Homo sapiens: one gene and its partner. The protein of the gene in region 1 purifies or fractionates together with the protein of each later gene. This does not show direct contact. Each region holds a gene or a part of one and is shown on either strand. Other genes may lie near its edges.

What was found. The genes of interacting proteins can lie anywhere in the genome.
Region 2: the proteins of CORO2B (region 1) and SSH1 purify together in Homo sapiens (co-immunoprecipitation; one large-scale study listed by IntAct). This does not show direct contact.

Annotation. Positions count from the first base shown.
Region 1 is NC_000015.10:68,584,546-68,589,889, forward strand, and holds part of CORO2B (coronin-2B), read left to right. Parts: intron 1-5,344. UniProt on the Homo sapiens protein: May play a role in the reorganization of neuronal actin structure.
Region 2 is NC_000012.12:108,776,770-108,781,137, forward strand, and holds the end of SSH1 (protein phosphatase Slingshot homolog 1), read right to left. Parts: 3' UTR 1,422-4,368; downstream 1-1,421. UniProt on the Homo sapiens protein: Protein phosphatase which regulates actin filament dynamics. Dephosphorylates and activates the actin binding/depolymerizing factor cofilin, which subsequently binds to actin filaments and stimulates their disassembly.

The sequences.
Region 1 (5,344 bases):
CCAGCTAGCTGAAGCAGACACAGCCTCCGCCAGGGCCAGGGCTGGTGGAGTCTCGGCTCCTGGCACCCGGGCAGCCCTGACTCTGATTTGGATATGCCTGGCCACAGAGCTTATCTGGTGTCCAGGAGATGAGAACGTGTGCAGATTCTCTCTGCGCCCAGCCCTGTCTCCTTCCCTCTTTTCCTGATCAGCCCCATTGGGTTCCCATTCCTTCCCCTGTAGGCCCTGCAGGCTCAGGCCCAGGGTCCTGGAGCACCCTGCAGCCTGGGGAGCTTGGGGCAGCTGGCATGGGGCAGGCCTTGCCAGGGAAGGACAGATGCAAATCCAGTGGCTTCCACATGAAAAGTAGCTGTTTAGAATGAGCCTCTCCTTTGTGGGCCTGGAGTGCGGGACCAGCTGCTAAGGAGGCACAAGTGGGGTGGGGGTGGGGAGTGGGGGAGAAGCCACCACCGCCCTTCCTCATCCCTCCTTTTTGCCCCCGCAGAGGCCCCTGGAGGGACTTTGTAATTGGTTTCTGGCTGGCAACCTCCTTCCAATTAATTAATGTAGCAATGGGAGGCTCCCAGGTTTGCTCAGGCTGTCTTTCGTACAGAATACATACATGGGTTACTTCCCTGAATCCCATCAGCTCTGTCATGGTGGGGACGGTCCCCTCTATTTAGGGACGGATAAACAGAGTGTCTGAGTGGAGAGATGACCACACCCTGGTCCCAGAGCTAATGTGGGTCAGAGGCGGGATGCACGCCCAGATCTTCTGGCTTTGAGCCAGAACCTTTTCAATCCGATCACATAATGGTCCACAACCCATGAAGATTAATCACCATCATCATGATAATAACAGTTATTAAGCAGGCGTTGGGCACGCATGATCGCATTTACTCTGTACAACCATGGGGTAGATTCTATTATCCATCCCATTTTCTAGAGGAGGAGAGTGAGGCTTAGTGAGAGTAGGTGAACGGCTCAAGGTCACAGGTTGAATGAATGGGTGGGGAGCAGGGATTTGTACCTGGGCTGTCTGACTCCAGAGAACACTTTCATCTCACTTCCAGGCCTTTGGTCCTGGGGCATGATCGTACTCTGCTTCCACTCCCCACCAACCCCCCACCTACAACACAGTGGGCTATTGTCTGTTGTGTTTGTGGCCCTGCCACTGAGGATGTGCAGGACAAATGCTGGTTGCCTTGAGGGTGATGCCCATGGTTGTGTCCTGCTTAGATTTGCCTGTGGTCTTTACTGGAGCTAGGAGTCATGTAAATGATTCGGGGAAGGGTGCTGGGGGAGGAGGGTGTCCTATACATGGTGTTTGACATCAGATTGGGCTGCTTGGGTAGGGCATTCAGCCGAGGGCAGAACAAAGTATGACAGAGGCAGAGCCGCCTTCTCCATTTCCATGAGGCTAGCTTGGTTCAGAGAACGCAGGTCCCTGGTCCAGGCCTGCAGCCCTTACGAAGCAGCCTTTTCTCGAGTTAGCCCCTGATGATTTGGGGTTCCACTGGCTAGGAATGCTGGCTTTGAAGTCAAACACATGGCAGTCTGTCATTTACTTGCTGTGTATTCTTGGGCAAGTTGCCTCACCTCTCTGAACATCTGTTTCCTCATCCATTCATTGGGATTGATAATAGTAACAATCCTTTACTATTAAGGATTGTTATTAAGATAAAGTGAGCCGATCCATGTGAAGCACTTACCATATGCCTGACATGTAGTGTTAGCTGTTATTCTCAGGAAGACAGAAAATTAATGAGTGTCCTGGGGCTTATGAAATGAGCAGTACAGGGAACTCTGGGAATAGCAGGGGGCCTGACCTAGTCAGAGGGATGAGGAAGTGACTTTAAGTTGAGTCATGAAGGATGAGTAGGAGGTAGCAGGTGAAAGGAGGGGAGCTGAGGAGGGAGCAACAGGCCGGGGATGAATGGGCAAACGTCAGGAGTCAAAAGCCACGGACCTTGATCACTTCCTGCATGCTGGACATTGATGAGAGCATGGTACAAGTATCCACTCATTTAATCCTCAGAGTGACATCATGGCATAGGTTACTGTTATCATCCCTGCTTTACAGATAAGGACACAGGCACAGAGAAGCTAAGTCACCTGTAAAAGGTGGCCCAGTGAGGCAGGATGAGGCTGGTCCAGACCCGGACCTCCGGATTCTGGCCTCTTTCCTTCCCGCTGCCTGCTGCTTGGTGATAGGGAGGGTGGCCTGACCCTGGCTGCTTCTAAAACTGACCCAGGCAAGGGGGTGTGGAAGTGCCAAGTTCAGTTGCCTACCCCGATGCCTCACGGAGCCTCCTTGGGCTGTGTAAAGTGGCCAGAGGCCCTCCTGGCTCTCAGGCAGGAGGGAGAAGTCATTTATTTTTCCAAAAGGAAACTTTGCTCTGGCAGGAAATTTTCCACCTTATATTTTTAGTGGGCTCAATTATGACCATTTTTGTTCTTTAAATCTTTCTTATTATCTATATTGGGCCTTGGTCTTTAAAGTCAAACTATAGGGAGATATGTATACACACACACACACACACACACACACACACACACACACACACACACAATTTTTTTCTAAAGTGTTAAAAGTCCACACCAATAGTCCCAGCTACTCAGGAGGCTGAGGCAGGAGATCATCCTGGGCAACGTAGTGAGACCCCATCTCTAAAACAAACAAACAAAAAAAACCCCCTAAGTGTCTGCAGTTTGGTGTCTGCTCTGTCCGAGCTCAGAGAAGGTGGATGTTTTACATGGTGTTCATGCCACAGGCTTAAACTTACTGTCCCCTGTATGAGATAAGTGTCAACACCCCTGGAGGCTCTGGCTGCCCAGAGCGGTGGTGTGTGGAGGCTCACCCTGGGTAGGTGCTCATGCTAATTGCTGGGAAGCCTCCATGATCAGTATTTAACTCCGGAGATGTCTGAGGTCATCTGGGCCAGCACTCTGCCTGTACGGCACTCTACACTTTTTAGGAATATCACAATGATTCCTAATTTTAATTTAGATTCGTTTAAGAAATACCAATTTAATAGTAGTCAGTTCTCAGCCTTTCACCAGGTGCTAGGCCCCTGCTTTCAAGGGACCAACAGACAATAACAATAACAATAATAATAGAAGCGGCTAACCCTTCCGGAGCACTTAGTTTATGCCAAGCATATACAATATGTTTTATATGTATTAATTCATTTAAGCTTCATGACAGCCTATGAAGTCTGTGCTATTATTATCCCCCTTTCTATGGTTGCAGAAATGGAGGTCCAGGGAAGGAAGGGAGGTAACTTTTACAGTGTTCCCACAGCCAGTCAGGGACTCAGCCTGCCTCGCAGGCCTTCTGTCTTGCCACTTTGTCAGGCTGGTGGGAATGACCCGGAAATATGTGGTCCAGAGCATGGGACCTGGAGGCAGAAGACCCAGGCCTCGCTCTTGCCTCTGCTCCTTACTGTGTGACCTTGGGCTAGTCCCTGGATGTCTCTGAGCGTCTGTGAAAATGAAGTTAGTAGTCTATCTCTGTAGGGTGCTCTAATATTTAAGTAACATGGAAAGATGTAAATAAGGTGCTTTGTAGATGTCATGGCAGGAAATGGTTTATTGTGATGTCTAATCTGTGCCCACTCCTTTCCTCTTCCTCACCAGTATTTCAAGGCCCTCAGATTTAGGCAGTTCCTTCCAATAGCTAGCCCACTTCTCCCCTGCTGTAGTCCTTATTTCAGAATTGATTCATACTCTGTGGGTGGAAGAGAAAAGTTCATCTCTTCCAAACAGCCTCTATCTGTTTTTACTCTGTCAGGCTAGTTTGGTGCAGATGAAAAGTTGCTTTTCTCTCTTCCTGTTCTGTCTATTTTGGCTGTTTTAATATGCTTGGGACAAATAATCTGGCTATAAAAATGTGGTGTCCTGCTTTCATTTGAAAAGTGAGCCAAATAAAGCATCCAAACCTTGATCTGTATTATCCCGGCTCTCTGTAGATCAGAGCTCCCTGTGGAAGGCGAGGGAAGGTGGGTCCCAGAGCACAGTCCTACCTGGGTCCCTGGGCAGAAAGACCAGGTTCCCACTGTCAAATGACCTTGATCTTTGCTCCAGATACCTCCCGATGCCCCCAGCGCTCAGACCTGCTTTTCCTTTAGGTTTATGGAAAGGAATAGCCTCTACTAGCTTGAGGCATTTGCAGCAAATCATTTAAACACCTTGAGTTTGATTTCAGAACTAACAGTTTTATAATCTGGAATCTGGTAGAATCCAGGACGTGGAACGGCTGATGGAAAGAAAGGTGTTGGTGGAAGGGGACAAAGGGATTTAATTCCTGAGGATTTTTATTTAACTCCTGAAAAATTGCTGGTTATGCCTGCCCTGCTGACCTCCAGGTGAAAGACCAGCTTGCAAAAATGCATGGGGAAATTTGGGATTCCGAGAAATTTGGAATTCTGGGAAAGGGGATTTCTGCATACCTGAGTGGCCAACTGATAACTTTATCATCACAAATCTTTCTTCTAGAGACCCTGAGTCTGCCTTCCTGCCTTACTCATTAAAAGATCTGGGAACAAACTCAAGTTATTATGGATTGAGGCTGTTTCAGGGCTTGAGCTGTTCTGTTAAACTGACCTTTTCAGGGTTCGGATCCACATTAATTTCTCAATCCTTGGAGTTCCTGTAGCATGTGATCCCTGGTATACCAGCCAGCAGGTAAAGGCCTAATGTGCCTTGTTTGCTGATTATCTTATGAGCATGATCTTTGGCTCCCTAACTTGTGAGCTTGCTGAAGCTAGAGATTAGGTCTGATTCTTTTTAGTAGCTTTCACAGCATTCATCAAAGGGCTATGCATGCCAGTTAGAGTGTGTTGTGGATTTTTCGAATACCAGGTATAGACATATAAGATTTGGCAGGATTTGGAGCAAACCTAAAACATTCCCTGTTGCTGCTTGGACAAAATCTCTACTGTTAGAGATCTGTGGACTGCTACAGCCGGAAGGGACTTTAAAGATGTACAGTAGAAACGCCCATTTTGCAGAGGAGAAAACTAAAGCCCTAGAAAGTTTTCCCAAGGGGGTATAGGAAAGATGTGGCTGAGTGGGAACTGGGGCTCCCCCAAGTTACTGCTCAGGTTGGGTTTTCCAATTCTGTGGGTTTTTTTCTAGGCTTCTAGTAGTTGCCCGATGTTGGCAGGCCAAGGACTGATTCAAAAGTGGGGAATGGGAGAAAGTTCCAGAAAGGAGACTTTGAGAACTTAACCTAGATGGGAGGAGGCACCTGGTTGGAGAGACTTGGCTCCCCAAGTGACCAACTAGGAGCGCCCTGACCAGAGGCCTGGTTTGGCAGTGGCAGAGGCAGAGGGAGCAACTTCGGAGCCCTTTCTGCTCAACC
Region 2 (4,368 bases), on another chromosome or scaffold:
GGCAGGCGAATCACTTGAGCTCAGGAGGCAGAGGTTGCAGTGAGCCAAGATTGGGCTACTGCACTACAGCCTGGGTGACAGAGAGAGACTCTGTCTAAAAAAAAAAAAAAAGCCGGATGTGGTGGCTCACACCTGTAATCCCAGCACTTTGAAAGCCCAAGGCAGGTGGATCACCTGAGGTCAGGAGTTTGAGACCAGCCTGGCCAACATGACAAAACCCCATCTCTACTAAAAATACAAAAATTAGCCAGGTGTGGTAGTGCATGCCTGTTATTCCAGCTACTCGGGAGGCTGAGGTAGGAGAATTGCTTGAACCCGGGAGGCGGAGGTTGCAGTGAGCCGAGATCACACCATTGCACTCCAGCCTGGGCAACAGAGCGAGACTCCATCTCAAAAAAAAGAAAAAAAAGTAACATAATTCTGTTGCAGAGATTTTGGAAGACAGACAAAAGAAGGAACAAAATAAGCCTTGAATCCTCCCTGTCTAAACCATTGCTGTTAGCAGGTGGTGAGTTTTCTTTCTTTCACAGAGGGCTTTCTGTCAGGATCCCCGGGATGACATAGACTGCCTCTTCTTTTCCTCAGTGCCTGGCCCACAGCAGGGGCTCCATGAACCAGAGAGGAATGCCAGAATGAGTGGATGTTATAAAGGGCTTGGCTTGGTTGACCTTTCAGATTCTTCTGGACTCTGAAAAACTCAGGATTCTTTGATTCACAGCAAATGCCTAGCATCGACCTGGGGTTCAGTCCCAATATGCCAGGCCCTTGCCAGTCTCAGAAGTGACTTGAGACATGGCCCCAGCCCCAGTGGAACTTGGTTTAGCCAGTCATGGGTGTCCCCAAACGTTCCAAGCTTTGGCAAATGAAGCAGGGGCTCCTTTTTAAAAAAGATCTTTATAAAAAATCAAGTCAACATGAAATTGGAATACGAAATTAATATAACTGAGGTTTTCCCTCAAATCCTATGCTTTTAAGCTAATGATTCTACAGTCCTAGAACCTTTTTTTTTGTTTTTTTTTTTTTTTTTAAGAGACAAGTTTTACTTTGTTGACTAGGCTGGAGTACAGTGGTGCCATCAAAGCTCACTGCAGTCTCCAACTCCTGGGCTCAAGCAATCCTCCTGCCTCAGCCTCCCCTTTAGAGTAGCTACATCTATAGGCACATGCCCCCACACCCAGCTAACTTTTAAAGTTTTGTGGAGATGGGGTGTTGCTTTCTTGCCCAGGCTGGTCTTGAACTCCTGGCTTCAAGCAATCCTCCCACCTCAGCCTCTCAAAGTGAGAGGACTGCAGGCATGAGCCACTGTGCCCAGCCTGCAACTAACACTTATGGTTATCAATACTCCCTCCCTTAGTTAACTGTCTTAGGTATCATAATAGCCTTTCTTATATGTATCAAAACTCATACTGAACAACAAGTTCTCAGTTGCAAAAGGAGATTTATTGTTTGCACCTGTCTATAAGTACTTGCCCACAAGTTAAACAAACGCACGCATAAGTCCACAGGGGCTCCTTTTCATGGCATATCTCATTTACTCCCTCACTCTCTCAGCATCTGTTGAGCATCTACTGCCCTCTAAGCATTGCACACATGCATTAGGGACTATTTTCCTTGGGGAGAAGATGGTGGGGTAGAAATTGCATGAATTTGGAGTCAGGCACTCCCAGCCTCTGCCCCTTCCTGGCTGTGTGTCCCTGACCCACGTTACCTAACCTCTCTGAGCATCCACTGCTTCCTCTGTAAAACAGAATCATATCTGCGGTGAGGATTAACTTGGTAATACATGTGAAACCCTTGCAACTAGGAATATATCCTCCAATTCCAACAATAACAACCACCATTTATTTATTAGGTAGTGTGCCAGGCAGAAGGGGATTTGCATGCATTATCAGTGAATTCACCAATGACCCCATGAAGTAGGTAGCATTGTCAGTTTGTTCTGATCCAATTTCAAGAGCAAGAGGGAGGTCTACCACCACCACCACCACCACCACCACAATGTACCATTTGTGGGATAATTTGTCTTTTTAAAATCTTTTATTTTTATTTGTTTTTGAGACACGGTCTTGCTCTGTTGCATAAGCTGGAGTGCAGTGGTTCGATCTCGGCTCACTGCAACCTCTGCCTCCCAGGCTCAGGAGATCCTTCACCTCAGCCACTCAAGTAGCTGGGACCACTGGCACACCACCATGCCTGGCTAATTTTTGTATTATTGGTAGAGATGGGGGTTCACCATGTTACCTGGGCTGGTCTTGAACTCCTGGGCTCAAGCAATCTGCCTGCCTCGGCCTCTCAAGGTGTTGGGATAACAGGCGTCAAGCCACCGTGCCCAAATTTGTCTTTTAGAGTCGGATGCTGGAGCATCCTCTCCTAGGCTGGGAGGTTGCTAATGTAAATGCCACACTGTATTTGCTGAAGTGGTTTACAAAAAAAAGGAATTTCAGGTTGAAAATGGACTCTTAACAAGGTACTTCAGGATGCACAATTTCCATTTAAAGGCAAAATATGGTGAATATGATCTACGGGAAAGAAACACACCTTGTGTCACCCCAATAGCCTTTGGAGCAAGAAGTGGGTCCAATTTCCCAGGGGCTGGGGGCTTCATCTCCAACTCATCTGCTTCCTTGCTGAAACCACAAGGGAGATCAAGATGCATCTTTGTCTGGCTTCTTTCTACTTCTGGGGTGGGAGAGACAGCTCTGGGAAGGGTTTCAGATGATGAGGGAGCAGTTCCTATCTGGCTTCATCAATTTTTAGATGTACCTGTAGGCAAATTACTTCCACTCTGTGGGCCTGTTTTTTCATAAACTGAGAATAATGCCAACAAGGCAGTTAATAGAAGGATCCCAAGGTAGTCCAAAGAGTTCAAGAAAGTTAGAAAAAGGACTCTCCTCTACCTTTTTTTTTCTTTTTTTTGTTTTTTGAGACAGAGTCTCACTCTGTCACCCAGGCTGGAGTGCAGTGGTGCAATCTTGGCTCACAGCAACCTCCACCTCCTGGGTTCAAGCGATTCTCCTGCCTCAGCCTCCCGAGTAGCTGGGATTACAGGCGCCCGCCATCATGCCCGGCTAATTTTTGTATTTTTAGTTGAGACGGCGTTTCACCATGTGAGCCAGGCTGGTCTTGAGCTTCTGACCTCAAGTGATCCACCTGCCTTGGCTTCCCAAAGTGCTGGGATTACAGGCGTGAGCCACCGTGCCCAACCCTCTCACCTCTTTTGAGATATGCATCACAGACCACAATGCCCAGTTTGGAGAATTCCAGGGGATTCTTTATGTAAAGCACATAGAAGGTATGTGATAAACATAACCTGGTTTTAGGAGGCAAGGATGCGTGGGTGGGTGGTGTTTCCTGGGTGGAGCTCTCCTTTAGAAAGGGCTTCTTTACCATAAAGTGAATCCCCCTAAGTTCCAAGCCGTCCTCTGTGCTGCCTTTGGAGCCTCTCCCGAACATCTTGCCAAGAGGGGGTTCCCCAGGCATAAACACAAACAAGCATGCGGATCCTCCCCAGCAAAACCACCTCCACTGTAGATGTGATCTGGGATCGTGCCCAACCGCGAGACAGTTACTCTGAGGAGGAAATCAGGGCAAAAGCAGCCCATTACAGGAATATTGTCCTAGGGCCTTGAACAAATAAGTATCGGATGAGTTTTATGAACACACATTGTTAGGGTAGTGTGGGTGTTGTCTCCAAAAAGCATGTGTGCAATGTAATTAGCAAAGCGTGAGCCTACTCAGTTGCATCATATTCTTATTTTGATGGTTTCTAAACTTGGCCATCAGAATTCCCAGGGAATCTCAGAAACATACAGATTGCTGGGGCCCATCCCACCCCATTCATGGCTGGAACCCAAAGAGAATTTGTTAGCTATCTTCAACCTTGCCAGAGAACAGTGTCTTGAACCATGACCCTCAGTGATTTGTTTTTAAAACATTTTACAGAGAGGGCTGCATTATAGCTTGATAACACTATTAGAAGCATCCTGTGGCTTGGCGCGGTGGCTCATGCCTATAATCCCAGCACTTTGGGAGGCCAAGGCGGGTGGATTACCTGAGGTTGGGAGTTTGAGAACAGCCTGACCAACATGGAGAAACCCCATTTCGATTAAAAATACAAAATTAGCCAGGCGTGGTGGCACATGCCTGTATTCCCAGCTACTCGGGAGGCTGAGGCAGGAAAATCACTTGAACCCAGGAGGCAGAGGTTGCGGTGAGCTGAGATCACACCATTGCACTCCAGTCTGGGCAACAAGAGCTAAACTCCATCTCAAAAGAAAAAAAAAAAAGAAGCATCCCACTAAACTTTTAATATTCAATAAGCAATTCTTAACCAAAATTTGGCACCCCATAGAGATTTACCTAGAAGGG